Homo sapiens: one gene and its partner. The gene in region 1 interacts genetically with each later gene. Each region holds a gene or a part of one and is shown in the gene's direction. Other genes may lie near its edges.

Region 1 (7,273 bases):
TCCCACTTTCTGAAACACTTTATTAGGCAAATAGTGCACCAGAGCAAAAGATGTTTAAACTTACTGGAAAAATAGACACTTTGGATGCTCCACATTTGATGTGCATCAATTTTCTCATGTTACCAACGATGTTATATTTTTATTCTTAACATCATCTCGTACAAAACTGTTGTTTTTAGAGCATTTTCACATAATATCCTTTTGATAGTGAAAAACCACTGTACTCTATCTAAATGGAGTATCTGGGTTATAGTTCCCTTATCTGCCTTATACCAAAAAGGGCTTAACGCAGACAAGAGAATTTATGTACACACTCAATAAATATCCTTAGAACATCTATTATAAGCCAGACACAGTGCTAGCCTCTGTATACTCAACTGACAGCGAGAAAGACAGCATCTTTACACTAGGTTGTGTTCTGGTGAGTGAGCTGACCATTAACAACAAAAAATATAGTTATTACCTTTTGGGGTTAGCTGTAAGGAGGATAATAATAATTTTTAACTATATCTCGTAAGTGTTGCTTTCATGAACAATTGAGATACTGTATATGAAAGAACATTGCATAAATTATGGCAGTCTACAAATGTGTAAGGCATTAACTTTCAAAATTATATCAGATTATTCTTAGTGTAAAAAGGCCAGATAATCATGACTGGATTAGACACTATCTTTCTCATAGAATTTCCAGCAAGGAGGGATTTTACTTCTGAGCATATATAAATAATGATAAAAGATTAAACATGGAATAACTTTTATATAAAGTATCAAAAAAATTTCACAGTGGAATCCGATATTGTCAGTGAATTTTTTCCTGTCAGAAGGAAAGTTAGGTGGTATCCATGGAGACCAAATGATATGGAAATAACAGTGATTGGACCAATGTATTTTCCCTCTTTATGTCAGATAAGAAAATCTTCCCAAGCCTCTCTGTGCTTTAGTCTGAATCTTCTTCACTCTCGTGTCAACTTCTTCATTATCTGTCATTGCAGGTGTGCACTGGGCTGATTGTAGTATTTTGCTTTTACCACCTTTTTTTTCTTTTCTTTTTTTTTTTTTTTGAGGCAGAGTCTTGCTCTGTTGCCCAGACTGGTGTACAGTGGCACACTTTCAGCTCACCGCAACCTCTGCTTCCAGGTTCAAGCAATTCCTGTGCTTCAGCTTCCCGAGTAGTTGGGACTACAGGTGTGCGCAGGCGTGCGCTACCATGCCTGGCTAATTTTTGTATTTTTAGTAGAGACGGGGTTTCAGCATGCTGGCCAGGCTTGTCTCGAACTCCTGACCTCAGGTGATCTGCCCACCTCAGCCTTCTGAAGTTCTGGGATTACAGGCATGAGCCACTGCGCCGGCCTGCTTTACCATCTTGGCTCATGTGCATTTATTGAATGCTTACTGTGTGCCCAACACTGTATATGTGACAACATACATGAAAGTAAATATTAACTGATAGCATATATTTATAACATATATTACAATACGTAATATATGCAAATAAACGAAACTGCGGTGAAATGTCAGTTATTATTAGTAAAAATTAGTTCTTCTTTTCATCTGTATGAGACATGATGTTCCTTCCTGCACAGGGGTAGGAGGTCAGGACCTTCGGTCTCTGCCTGCCCCGTCGGCCCCCTGTGTTTGGCCTGAGTGTAATCAGTGGTCGGTGCACGATGCCAGCTTCATGCACAGTGTGCTGAATTGAGGAGTGGCTCTGGTGGCGGGAGTGACTGATGGAAAAGTGGGTGAGGAAGTTCCATCAAACTTTAATTTATCAACAAAGAACAAAGAATGATGAATAACATATAGGGTCCAGATTTGAACATGAAGACAGTATTTTTTATAGAGTACCAAGGAAAACACACAAGCAGGAAACACAGCTCACAGGTCCCCTTTGTCCCTGGGACTCCGTCTGAGGCTCGTTGGATTCAGAGCAAGCAGCAGGCCTGAAGTCTTGGCATTGACCTTCAAAGATCCCCTAAAAATAATTTTCCCCCTCAGAAGCTCCATCTTATGACAAACTGTCTCTGAAACAAATTGTGTTTATTTAAGTAGACTTCATGTATCCTTTTTCTTTTATTAGAGTCAAAGTCTCACTCTGTCCACCAGGCTGGAGTGCGGTGGCTCGATCATAGCTCACTACAGGCTCAAACTCCTGGGCACAAGTGATCCTCCTGCCTCAGTCTCCTGAGTAGCTGGGACAACAGGCATGTGCCACCCCAAAGCCCGACATACATTTTTGTGTAGAGACGGGGTCTCGCTATGTTGCCCAGACTGGTCTCAAACCCTTGGCCTCAAATGATCCTCCCTCCTCAGCATCCCAAAGTGCTGGGATTATAGGCGTGAGCCACTGCACCCGGCCCTAGTGCCCATTTTTATTCCTCAGAAACACATATGACTTCCAGTCAGAACTCCTGATTGCCTTGAGAAAACTGGTATCATCAAATCTCACTGAACTCATTATAGCCAAAGGTAGAGACCCGTGGTGTGTTGGACAGGCTGGCCGGCTCCGTGTGAGAGAAACTCACCATCCCGTTAGGCTTTCTGAGGCACTGAAACTAGCCGGGACCCTCCATCAATAACTTGGTCTGCTTGGGGATCCAGGGACCCCATGCAATTATTTTAAATGAATAATTGATTTTGTTAAATGTAGTAACACATGCAATGGTTTTCTTAAATGCACACATTGTGTTATTATTTCATTTGTTTATTAAATATTTCTTGACAGCCAGCTGTGTACAAGGCTCTGCGGTGGAAGGTGCATGAACTCAGATGCCTAGAGTGGCCTTTTAGTTCTCCAATCACTTCCTCCTTTGGAAGTTTTCACTGTAAAATGTGGCTGGATAATTCTGTCATCCTCAGGAGACAGAACCTGTGTGTGTTGTGAAAATCACCTGGGGAGGGGACTTTTAGAAATTACACGGGACCTTTTAGATTTGAGACTATCTGTAGCCCCCTTTCCCTTCCTTCCCCTTCCTGCCTTGATAGCGAGCCTCTTATTCACCATTGGATCCCTGCTCCCCAGCCTCCCTCAGGTGTGTGGCCAGAGTAGAAATGGAAAGCCACTGAATCGAGGATCTCTTCCCAGGGCCAAATAGTTGATCTTTTCCTTGGCTCAGATGAAACCTCTTTCCACATTTTAAAAAGCACTTCGGACAGGGGCCTGTGGTCACTCTGTTGGCTCTGCCCACTTGCCCTTGCTTGCCATACAGAAATGGGACTCATGTTAAGTTTGTGATACATTGAATTTTCCTTTTTTTTTCTTTTTTGAGAAAGAGTCTCGATCTTGTCTCCTGGGCTGGAGGGCAGTGGTGTGATCTCGGCTCACTGCAACCTCCGCCTCCTGGGTTAAAGTGATTCTTCTGCCTCAGCCTCCCGAGTAGCTGGGATTACAGGCATATGCCACCACGCCGGGCTAATTTTTGTATTTTTAGTAGAGATGAGGTTTCGCCATGTTGGCCGGCTGGTCTCGAACTCCTGACCTCAGGTGATCTGCCCGCCTCAGCCTCCCAAAGTATTCGGATTACAGGTGTGAGCCACCGCGCCCAGCCCAGTTTTCCATTTTGAAGAGGCAAGAAGGACTTTATTTTATTTTATGTATTTGTCTCTTTGTCCAGGAAGGCCATGGAGAATTAGGCGTTTGGTTTTGTTTTGTTTCTATTTTGGTTTATAACTCCTTTATCAGTTTAGTATTCCCTTCTGATAAGCAAGAAAGAGCGGAGTTGACAAAGAATGGCTGCAGATGAGAAGCAGGTGTGTGAGGTTCCTTCTGATGATGGATTCTAAGTATTTTTATCCCAAAGGCAAGACTAATTTAGTTCAGCAAAATACCTTAATTTAGGATTTTGTGTGATAAAAGCCTGTCCTGTTTTCATTAAATGACGATTTTTGAGAATTAACTACTTGCTGTGTGATTTTCATAAATAATTTCATTTGGGCATACTTAACACTGTTGCTATCTGCTGAAGGCATTTGATACTCGCACACCTAATGCCATCAAAGGAGAGATGAGTATACACTTTAATTTGTTCTTATTGAGTGTACATTTTAATTGTTCTTATGAATGTCAGATTTTGGGAAGATCCAAAGAAGTACTCTGTAGACAGAATACGCTGTCCTGGCCCCCTAAGCTTAGAATCCTACCAATTTTCCCATTTCATGAGATTGACCTTTCAGATGAGGAGGGACTGCATACAAATTGCTTTATTTCAAGTAATATCTACCATGTTATTTTTGAAAGAATTCTTTTGTCCTTTTTACCCTAGATCTATTGGAAAAGATGAGAAAAATTACAGTGGTGATAAGAGTGTCTTAACACCTAGATATGATGGGTGTGTCGGGTGAAAGGATAGCAATGGGAGGCTGGTGGAAAGTGAGAGTTGGGGGATGGGGTGATGAGAAGGAAAATAGGTGACTAGTGACTCCTGGATTCTTGAATGGGAGAGAGTGAAGAGACAATCAGGCAGGGAGATTTTCTGTCTTTGCATAAATGTCACTGAAAGAGTTTTAGAGATCGGAGGGGTGAGGTGAAGTTGGTTAGGCAATTAGTGATAACTCAAGGACCAGTTGAAAGACTGGAGGACCCTCCACTGCTGACTGTGGGATCAGATCCTTTTATCCTGGGGATGAGAAAGGCTGATGGGAAAACTGCTAGGCAGCTGCTGACATTATACCACCAGGAAACATGAAGTTGTGAGTAGTTGTCACTTGGACATGGCTGAAGTCACCTTAGGGTACAGTGATGTTGCTGCATCACAACGTTTAGGTCATCAATGGGCCATACACATGACTGTGGCCCCATAAGATGATAATATCATACTTTTACCTTTTGCTATGTTTAGATACACAGATACTTGCCATTGTGCTACAGTGGCCTACGGTCCTCAGTACAGTAACCTGCAGTACATGTTTGCAGCCTGGAAGCCATAGGCCATACCATAAACCTGGGTGTGTAGGAGGTTATACCATGTAGGTTTGTGTAAGTACACTCTGTGATGTTCACACAATGACAAAATTGCTTAATGGTGCATTTCTCAGAATGTATAAGTGTGCTGATGTTGATGCATTGTTTGGGGATGGGGAAACTGATACTCACTATGTGAGGCCCCAAACTCAATCTAAAATTGCCTTTGGAGGCAACCACGGAAATACGGTAATAGCTCTCTTAGGCCTTCTCCCCCCGTACTGATCTTCCTTGGTACTGTTTTATTTTATTTTTAAACTCTTGAAATAATACATAATAGATGTATGTATTTTCAGGGCACATGTAATAATTTAATGCATTCATATTTGTAATTTGTAATGATAAATCAATGTAATTGTGCTATTGAGATTGTGGGAGGTAAATATGGAATCAGGGAAATAGAATGGGCTGATAATGTGTTTTCCTAAAGAACAGATGGGATTGGCCGTGCGCGGTGGCTCACGCCTGTAATCCCAGCACTTTGGGAGGCCGAGGCGGGCGGATTTCCTGAGGTCAGGAGTTCAAGATCAGCCTGGCCAACATGGTGAAACCCCGTCTCTACTAAAAATACAAAAATTAGCTGGGCATGGTGGCGGGCACCTGTAGTCCCAGCTACTCGGGAGGCTGAGGCAGGAGAATCGCTTGAACCCAGGCGGCGGAGGTTGCAGTGAGCCGAGATCGCACCAGCTTGGGTGACAAGCGTGAGACTTCATCTCAAAAAAAAAACAAAAAACAAAAAACAACCAGATGGGACAAGTTAAAACTGAACTATGAATTCCATAAGTGGGTAGTGTGGGTCACTGAGTGGGGCACTGAGTACTCCACAGTGACTGTAGTCAGGATTCTACATTGAAATAAACTTTCTGGAATTTACCTTGGTGCTATATACTTAAAGTCTTAAAAATGTTAAGCTCTCTGTTCCAGAAATTCTGCTTCTTGGAACCTACTTACGTGAAGTAACCAGAGATGGGAACAAAGATGTATGTACACGGATGTTTATTGAATTAGCTTTTGTTATGTAAAAACTTGGAAACAAGCTAAATATCCAACAATAGAGACACATTTGAACGAATTACGGCACATCCAGACAGACTATAGGTAGCTTATAAAGCTCGTGTTTTCGAGCAGCGTTTAGTGATGGGAAAATATTTATGATCTATGCTGATTGGGTGGGGAAAAAAGGATATGAAATTGTGCTTCTAGTTTTATTTTTAAAACATATGTGTATATTGGGGTATTTTTAAAAACCTGGAAGAAAACATATCTTTTTGATGGTGAAATTGTGGGTGTTTGGCTTTTTTTTTCCTTCTTGAAACATTTTTGTATTTTCCAAATTTAAAACAGCAAGCACAATTACCAATTACCCTTTTAACCAGAAAAATATTCTCAAGAGAGTGCTAATATGTCATCTCTGCCCTCACCTCTGGTCCACGTAAGGTTAGGAAAAACACACTGGGTGCTGCCGAGGAGGAGGCTGTGCATGGACGGGGCCATTCTCGAGCCTTTCTGCCTCCATGTGTGGAGCAGGCTCTAGAGCCAGGGCTTTCCTGGCCAGGCTCTTGGAAGCCTTTGTCCTCAGACAGCTGTGGCTACTTGGAGACACTTAGATTGGTGGCTTTTTGGTGAGGTTGGGACATAATGTTTTGTCAGTAACTGTGAAGGGCTTGAGATATGATTTCACTTCACAGTTAACATTCTTTATACATATGAATACTGCAGAAACACAAAACCCCTGGGTAGGAGAAAAGAGTTCCTTGTTGATATTTACAACTGGGGCAACAGCCTGAGTGACACTATTGTGTCAGGCCCCTAAACCTTGACCCTTAGGTGACACTGAAAACTAATGGAATGTACATGTGGGCTACACTTTGTTGACAGGGACAGAGCAGCTGTCCCTCTCCCGTCCCAAAAGGAGAGAGAGAGAAAAAAAAAAGAAGAAGAAAAAGGAAAACCAAACAGACAAACACCTTAGCTCCCCTGACATGGGATGAAAAGGTTCCAGGGGTCTTATCCTAACCTTTCAGAATGTGAGACACTTGTAACCTGGGGATGTCTCCAAGGTCTGTTTTTCATGCTTTTTGAAATACACATGCCTAGGGAGATACGTCTTCCCAGCACCTTGGGAACCAAGGTGAAATTATTTGGTCCTCTTGAGGAGATTAGAGGTTTTATTATCCTTTTGGAAAAGAGCATTTAATGTACACAAATGGCTACAGATCTAATTCTCATGGTAAGTGAAGTATAAAATGTTTGTAGGGGAAGTGAGAGTGAACATTCCCTGTCTTCATGTCCTGTATAGTCCCTATCTTCATGTCC
Region 2 (8,063 bases), on another chromosome or scaffold:
AAGGGGATATATGGTCTTCGACTTAGATTGGATACTAAATCCCCTTTGGAGCAGAATGGGAGTTGGGGGCTGGGGGTGGTCAAATGATTTCACTATTAACCTTTATGATTCTGTCTCTTCTATCCTAACTTACCTTGGCGTGAAGAAAGTCAAGCCTCTACAGTCTTGTTCTTCCCTTAGAAAGGATGAGAAGAAATCGTCAGTCCCATTTTAAATAAAATCACCTGTGTCCTTTGGTTAATATTCTGTGATTTCAGGGAAGCACACGGTGGCAGGTACAACTGTAGGGTCCCTTTTCCTCTTCCAAGGGGACTGCTCCTCCCTGCACTGGGTCTTCTGCTGCTGTTCCTGCTCATCCTCCATAGAAGCCTTTCACCTTCATTTTTAAGCCAACTGGTCCTCCCTAATCTTATTCTTGGCGACCTTCCCTTTATTTCCACCTTGAGTCCTCCCCTCTTCCAGAATGGCTTCTCCTCCCACTGAAAGGTGAGAGAAGCAAACATTTGACCCACAGTCTTGCTCTCTCATTTGTGTGGAAGCTACTCTTCCGGTTCTCCAAATAAAGACAAGAGATGAGTTTCAGAGTGGACACCTTTCCTATTGCTCTTTTTCTCCCTTGTTAACAGTTCAGGTTTTGCCTTCTGTTAGTTTAATTTTAGGATTATTCCTTTTTTCCCACCAGCTGTAAGGTTAGGAAGTGTCTTCTGAGTTCTGAAATAATCTTCCTTCTCCTGTTCTTTCCCACAGACTTCTCAGAAATTAAAATTCTTCTGTCTGAATATTCACTATGATAAAAATATAATTAGAAGGGAAAGCAAATTTTGGAAACCCCAAACCTTGGTTTCCCCACAAGTCATCTGGAAATGATTAGTATTGCTATTATCATTTATTAAGTTGGTAGATGCTGAACTAAAGGAATAGTTTAAAAAATAATTTTAAAATCATATATAAATGATTAGATGAGAATACAACTGTCTTTCTGAAGGGAGGGCTAAAAAAGATATTAATACTTAGATGTAATGATACAGGTGGTTCTATAAATACTCTGAGACCTTGGACATCCTGTGGGTTTTATAAAGTCCTCTGGAGAACACTTACATCTTCATTCCTAGGGTGGGAAGGGAGCTCTACTTGTGTTCTTGAATTTACTTAATTTTTGTTTCCCTTATGTAGGAAGTCAAAACACTGACCTCATTCCAAAACATCCAACAGCCCCTGAAGGTCACCGTCCCAATGTTTAGGCCCTGAATATGTTTGTCAAAAGTTTTTGGGAGGTGAGCTGTGTCATGAGAAGGAAGCTTGTGCTATTTTTAAATTGATTCAACTCATCATCGAAACATATCGTACACATATCACACCAATGACACACACAGGCTGCATTGTAACATAGCATGTGTCATACATATATTCTCTCTCACTCATACACACATACTCGCTCTTCTTGTCCGGCTTTTAAAAAGGAAGGCAGCCAGAAGGCCAAGCCCAGTGATTTGAGTTGAAAAGGCTGTTAAAGTTTAAAAACCAAGTGTCCCTCTAGTTCTCAGCCTGGCTTTGAGACATGTGGGAGGGCTTCAAAGCCTCAGTGCCCCTCTCTCAGGCTCAGGCTTACAGTTGGTCCCCAAATGTTTACCAGCATGAAGATGCCTAACTTACAGGAAGCGGGAAATGGGTGTGGGGGGTGAGGGTGGGTGGGTGGTAGGGAGTAGGAAGAAGAGGGTGGGGGGGTTATTCTCTTGATGTGGTTAGCCTGTCATTGACCTTGTTTGGGTATGGCAGGAGTTGAATGAGAAAATGAAAACATGTTTCATCTTGGGTACATTTCATCCCTTTTTTTTACCTTAGGAAAAAAAAGTTCCTTTCGAAAAAAAAAATTTTTTTTCCCCAAGTGGAGTTCAGGTCTCCAGATTTGGTGCTCAATTTCCCTTCATTCTACAATAGTCCTTTCCCTATAGAGTCATCTGGCCACCAACATTGCAATTCCCAATCCACCCAGGAACTGGGAGAGGAAAAAAACTGGCCCAGTAGCTGAAACCGAATTAAAATTGGCTGATGGAACTGTTGTGATGATGCCATCCACGGGAATAGATGAGAATTTCTGAGAACAGAACTATTTGGCTCATTCATGATTTGCTGCCATTGTGAACACTTTTAATGTGAGAGCTCTGCCTGAGAAATGCTGATTAATAAAGATAACTGAGGTTCTTTTCGGTGTTCTAACTTGGGGGGAAATAATATAGTGACTAAAAATGCACCAAGTTATTACTTAGAAACAAACCCTTTGAGACATAAGATTCCAGACAGTGGCAGCCTCTGATAGCTCTCTCTGCACAGCTGTACTGCTGCCAGGGTCTCCCAGCTTTAGTCAGCAGTAAAAAGGTGCACTGCTCAGGCCCTCTGGGAGGACCGAGTGAAGTTCAGAGGTCAGTCCCTTTTATTCCCCCTTAATGGTTTTGTGCTGGACAATACCTAAATATTACAATATGGACATGTTTTTTCCTATTATGGAGCAAGCTTCCTTTCTTTTATTTCTTCTTCCTTTTTGGTAGCTTTCATTTTAAATGATGATATCCATCATTGACTACTATAATCATAGTCAAAAGTTGGTTTGGAGGTTTTTTTTTTCCCAATCACTTTGAGACAAGAAGCAAACATGTGAAGGACTTTACATTCCAACACTCTGTGTCTGAAAATTTACTTTCCTTAAAGTTCTACCCGTGGCCTTGTCCAGCTCAGCTGGGACACCTGGAACTAATTTTAGGGTTGCCTGGCTAAGCCCCACACTGGTATTTGAAGTTTGCGTCCTCCCTAGACTCAAGCCCATTTCACCACCTCTGAAGGTGAGTGCAGGCTGATATTAATTAACAGTGAGTTGATTCACTGGCATCTTCCAGTCATTAAAGCAAATATTTGGCTTAAAATAGCCTTCTTCCCACCTCAAATATCAAACTTTTTGCCTATTCCCTTACTCTATCATGGTTGACTCACCAGCAGTTGCATGATGGTGTATGTGGCCTAAGAACAGAGTTTGATTCTAAAAGGGAAGTGAAATACTCTTTAACATCTGCAAGTGAGACTGTTTGAACAGCAGGCCAGCCTTCAGTATGACTACATTGTTTTTCTGTCCATTGTGGTGCTGACTCAGCATCAGTTAATAAACCCTCTTGAGCAGGCTGGATTTCTCTTGTTTAATTATCAGCTTGGAGCTTTCTGAGGACTCTTAGGAATTGTTCATTCAGTTTTCCACCCCCAGCAGATCTGCCTTCTAAAAGTCCTGCTTCCTCTTGGTGCTAGCGTCCCCTCTGGCATAACATGCAATCACAGGTGGGCCACGCAGCAAGCAGCGAGTGTGTGCTAATCATGTCCCCTAGTGGGAATTTAATTGTTCTGTACTGAGAGAGAGATTGCAGCAAGACTTTAGACACCATTTCCTGGCAAATAATCTTTTGCCTCTCCCCCTCTCCCCTAAAAAAAATTCTAGAAAAGTTTTCTAAAAGTGAGAAAAGAAATTTTAAAGATAAACAGACATATTTTTTAGGATTGAGTTGGGCTTTTGTTTTGCTTTGTTTCATTTCTTCCTGTAAACAAATACTCAGATGTCCATTTCATTGTATGACTAAGTTGGTATCATTAGGTTGGAACTGGGTGTGTGTATGTGGGTGTGTGTGTGGGTGGATGTGTGTGCACACGTGTATTTAAAATGTTAGAAAAGACATTGCAGGTCGAAGGAGAAATGATTTTAAAAAAACCTACCTATGGTAAGGCAAGCAGGAAAAATGGAAGACCTGGATTTCAATGATCTAAATAATAATTGAAATGGGGTGTTTGCTATAAACATTGTTTCTCTGAATTAAAGGATTCCTTGCTGAAGGCACAAGACCATTGAAGGAAGTAAAGCATCTGGTTTGTTTTGTAATGAGAAGCAGGAATGCAAGGTCCACGCTCTTAATAATAAACAAACAGGACATTGTATGCCATCATCACAGGATGTCCTTCCTTCAACAGAGGACTGACTGGGCTGGAGGAAAAGCTGGCCGGGGCTCAGAATAAGCCCCACTAATTACTGCCTCCGACCGCTTTCCACTTGCAGTGATCAGTTCAATATTCCTCTGAACTGTGAAACGACTAATGCTCTACATTTTACTTACACTCCTGGGAAGTCAGCCTGTGGGTTCTGGGAGGAGAGGAAAGGAAAACAAACAATCTGTAGAATTATAACTTTTGCCTATTTCCCTATTTACTAAATAGTTAAAAGAGGAAAGTTAGTTCTGCCAAGTTTGAACGTTAGCAGGAGAAACGGAATGTTACAACTTTTGGGGCGGGGGGCGGGGAAACGTGCGTTACATACACAACAGCTTGAGGACCAGACAGCTCCACTGTATTACACTAGCTGCAAAAACAATTTAACTTGCTCTTTTGAAGTAAGATTTGTGTCTTTTGTACCTGGGGATTTGAGCTGAGAAATCAGAAACTGTGTAGGTAAATTTTAAGTTTCCTTAATTTAAGGAACGTGCGCCCCCTAATTCTGCCGCGCCAGGAAGGAGGGCGATCTGGAGTGTTTAGAATACAATAGAGCCCAAGTAAGCGTTGAGGTTAAGTGCCTTCAAAGGGAAGTAAGAAGATTCCAAGTCAATGTTGAAATACACATGCGAAGAGAGGAAGCTCTCGGCGGCTGTGCTAGCAATCTGGGGGAAAGCCCTGGGCTCGGCCAGGTGGTGTTGGCCACGTTGGCCACGCCCCCACTTCGCGCAGCCGAGTGGCTAAGGAAATCTTAAGCAGGGAGGGGAAGCCAGACGGTTAACACAGACAAAGTGCTGCCGTGACACTCGGCCCTCCAGTGTTGCGGAGAGGCAAGAGCAGCGACCGCGGCACCTGTCCGCCCGGAGCTGGGACGCGGGCGCCCGGGCGGCCGGACGAAGCGAGGAGGGACCGCCGAGGTGCGCGTCTGTGCGGCTCAGCCTGGCGGGGGACGCGGGGAGAATGTGGACTGGGTAGAGATGAACGAGACTTTTCTCAGATGTTGGATATTTGCTTGGAAAAACGTGTGGGTACGACCTTGGTAAGGAACTTGAATTTTTTTTTTTTAATTCTGAAATTGATCTGAAAACTTTATTTTCTTTTCCTTTATTGTTATTATTATTAATTTTTTTTGGCTAATGTCGCAGTAGAAACATGCTTCTGCTTTAGTGCACTTAGTGCTGTCAAACATTTGTGAGACTTTCCTTATGAATCATTAACCCTTTCAGTTCTAGACATAATTGCCAATTCATTGAAATTTCAGTAGTGGTTCCAGCTCACACTCGTCAAACTATTCCGGGTTGGCTGAAGTTTTCTATTTTATTTTATTTTTAACATGTGTTTGGCGTCATGACTCTACATGTTGGAACTAAATAAAAATAAGCAGGTTTGCTTAAATCATAACTGAGGGAAAAACAACTTTGCATCCAACTTTTTTTTTTTTAAGAGCATCCTATTTAGAGAAGTGGAAGAATGTAAAAACCTCCTTGAAGGACTTCCACAGAATGTTATGTTTACATTTGAACAAACACACATTCTTACATGGAAATGATACCCATATTCCTCATTTTTATCAAACATGTCTATATGAGAAAACCCTTACAGAAGTTGTTTACCTTTTTTTGCCTTTGGAAAACAGTTTTTTTCTGAGTGTGAGGGAGGATTTTGGGGGAATATCCTCATCAATGTACAAGTGGAAGCAGAGCTTGTCCTCCAAGTCTTCTAAATTTGTTATAACTTTAGTTACAGTAAACTGTAGTACATCAGTGACTTCTGGGAATTCATACACTTTCAGATTTAAATGGAAAGTGCTATTTGTAGCTGAGGACTCCTAAAGGAATTCTCTCCAGGGAATTTTATTAAACGGTTTTATGTTTTGTTTTTGCCTTTTCAATTTGGTATGAGATGCTTGCAAGTCAGAAGACACTGCAGGCTGTTTTCCCCTTCACCCATTTTTCCTCCTCTTTTCCTGTGGTCCAAGTGATTTCTAAGAGGCCGTAGCTCAGTGATGCTGGCAGGATGCAACCCTTTTCAGTCTTCCATGTGAGAGGATGAAAGAGAGCTCGCAGCAGAGGGAGGAGGCAGTTGTTTTGAAAGTTGTTTTGCGTTGGGAGCTGGTGGGAAAGTTCGGTCTTCCCCATTTGGAAAAGGCAGGCTGGGTTCCGCTCCTGCACCACACGCGCTTTCCATTTTTAGCTTCATTCAGAGGCAGACAGAGCTCCTTCCTCTTCCTCTCCTTGTTTGTGACACTTTTCTGAGGCAGCTTTTCCACAGTGCCGAGGGTCTGGCGGCCATGACCCCAGGCATTCTGGGACACTGGACTGTGTGCCCAGAACATTTTTCTGCCATGAGAGGTAAAGCCAGGGATTGTTCAGAGGTGATTCTTTTTTTTTTTTTCCTTTTCCCCACAGTGAGGTTGCCACATTCTTTTTTTTTTTTTTTTTTTTAACTAAGAGTAGCATTTAAAAACCTTGCTTCTTTTCAAGGCAGTTTACTTTATACGGCTTCTTGGCTCTTTCTCAACTGTACCAAGCACTCTGCATCTGCTTTTAAAGTCTTCAGACTACTGTATTAGTCATAGCCTCTCAGAAGGAGCCACAGGAACGGCGGGACAATGGGGATTAAAGGCCTTTCCTTTCTCTTCCAGGCTGCCCCCAAGTGTAACTCCAGCACTGTGAGGTTTCAGGGATTGGCAGAGGGGACCAAGGGGACCATGAAAATGGACATGGAGGATGCGGATATGACTCTGTGGACAGAGGCTGAGTTTGAAGAGAAGTGTACATACATTGTGAACGACCACCCCTGGGATTCTGGTGCTGATGGCGGTACTTCGGTTCAGGCGGAGGCATCCTTACCAAGGAATCTGCTTTTCAAGTATGCCACCAACAGTGAAGAGGTAAGCCTCTGGTTTATTGACAAGAAGATTGGGGACCTGGTGCCAAATCTCCCTACTTGCCCTTGAGGCCTTGTATATCTCTGAAAACCTCTGAGAATCTGTAAGTATCAGTAAATAATTGATTGCTCTATTCAATTCTTGCATTGCTTTCTCTTTCCCTAAACCATTTCCTTCTCATTTCTTCCAGCCTTCAACTGTTCCTCACTAATTAGTAAACAGTTAAATATTTTGGCAAATTGGCATGTCTTAGAAAAGCAACTTGCAGCATAGGGTGGGTGAAATTGTCAGTGAACTTCAAGAAAGCTCTGGGCCCACTGGCCCTAGTGTCCCTGTTGTACAATATCTCTTAAGGGAGAAAACTTTTTCTTGGAAAAAAAAGTTTTAATATTTCTTTTGTCTGTCTTTGGTAATTAGTTGGCTTTACTCTTTTTAACAAGCCAGCTTTATTAGCTGGGTTTCTAAAACTATCCTCAAAACTTTGACGTGTTTATGAAGTGAAGTGATGGTATAAGCCGAGAAAGGGGGTCATGTAAAAGTGTCCTCTGTCTGGATGACTTCAGAGCTAACCACTGTTTATCTGCAGCAGCTCCTTTGCTGGGGCTGGGCTGGCAGGCCAATTCCTTACTGGCCTCTGAAGTGGGTACACTCTTTGTTGTTTCAAAGGGGATGAAAACCCAAACTTGGAATGAGCAACTGATTTGTGTTTACCTTTAATATAAAGATTATAGCTAGGCGTGATGTTTAGCTGTGAAATAACTTGCAGAACCACCTCTTGTTTTCAGAATTTGGCTTACTGTAGTTGCACTTACTAGTCTACTACTGGGTTGAGTTGAATGAAAGGACCCCTCAGCAGACTTCCCATACCACCATTAGCACAGAGCACTGTCAATTCTATTACTTCCTTCAGAAAGTAGGGAAAGGGGATGGTTGGCCGTAGAAATCCAGAATTTGCTACTGGGACTATTCCTTACAGCCGTGTCAAATCACTTTCCCCCTTCCCTAAGGAACAGTATTTGAAGGAATCCGGGAGACTAGGAAATGCTTTGTCTCTTTCCTGTTTGTGTGTCTGAGTCCAGTGTTTTTGGTGAGGGGGAGACACAGCTGTCTAAAATTAAATAGAACAACGATGCTCAGTCTTTCTTTTTTCCCCCAC

What was found.
Region 2: of IRF2 (region 1) and PRDM1, changing one suppresses a phenotype caused by changing the other (phenotypic suppression), as found in Homo sapiens cells (one study listed by BioGRID).

What each region holds. Positions count from the first base shown.
Region 1 is NC_000004.12:184,464,478-184,471,750, reverse strand, and holds part of IRF2 (interferon regulatory factor 2), read left to right. Parts: intron 1-7,273. UniProt on the Homo sapiens protein: Specifically binds to the upstream regulatory region of type I IFN and IFN-inducible MHC class I genes (the interferon consensus sequence (ICS)) and represses those genes. Also acts as an activator for several genes including H4 and IL7.
Region 2 is NC_000006.12:106,081,540-106,089,602, forward strand, and holds the start of PRDM1 (PR domain zinc finger protein 1), read left to right. Parts: upstream 1-4,796; 5' UTR 4,797-5,014; coding exon 5,015-5,056; intron 5,057-6,214; exon of another isoform or gene 6,215-6,307; coding exon of another isoform or gene 6,308-6,391; intron 6,392-6,661; coding exon 6,662-6,910; intron 6,911-8,063. UniProt on the Homo sapiens protein: Transcription factor that mediates a transcriptional program in various innate and adaptive immune tissue-resident lymphocyte T cell types such as tissue-resident memory T (Trm), natural killer (trNK) and natural killer T (NKT) cells and negatively regulates gene expression of proteins that promote the egress of tissue-resident T-cell populations from non-lymphoid organs.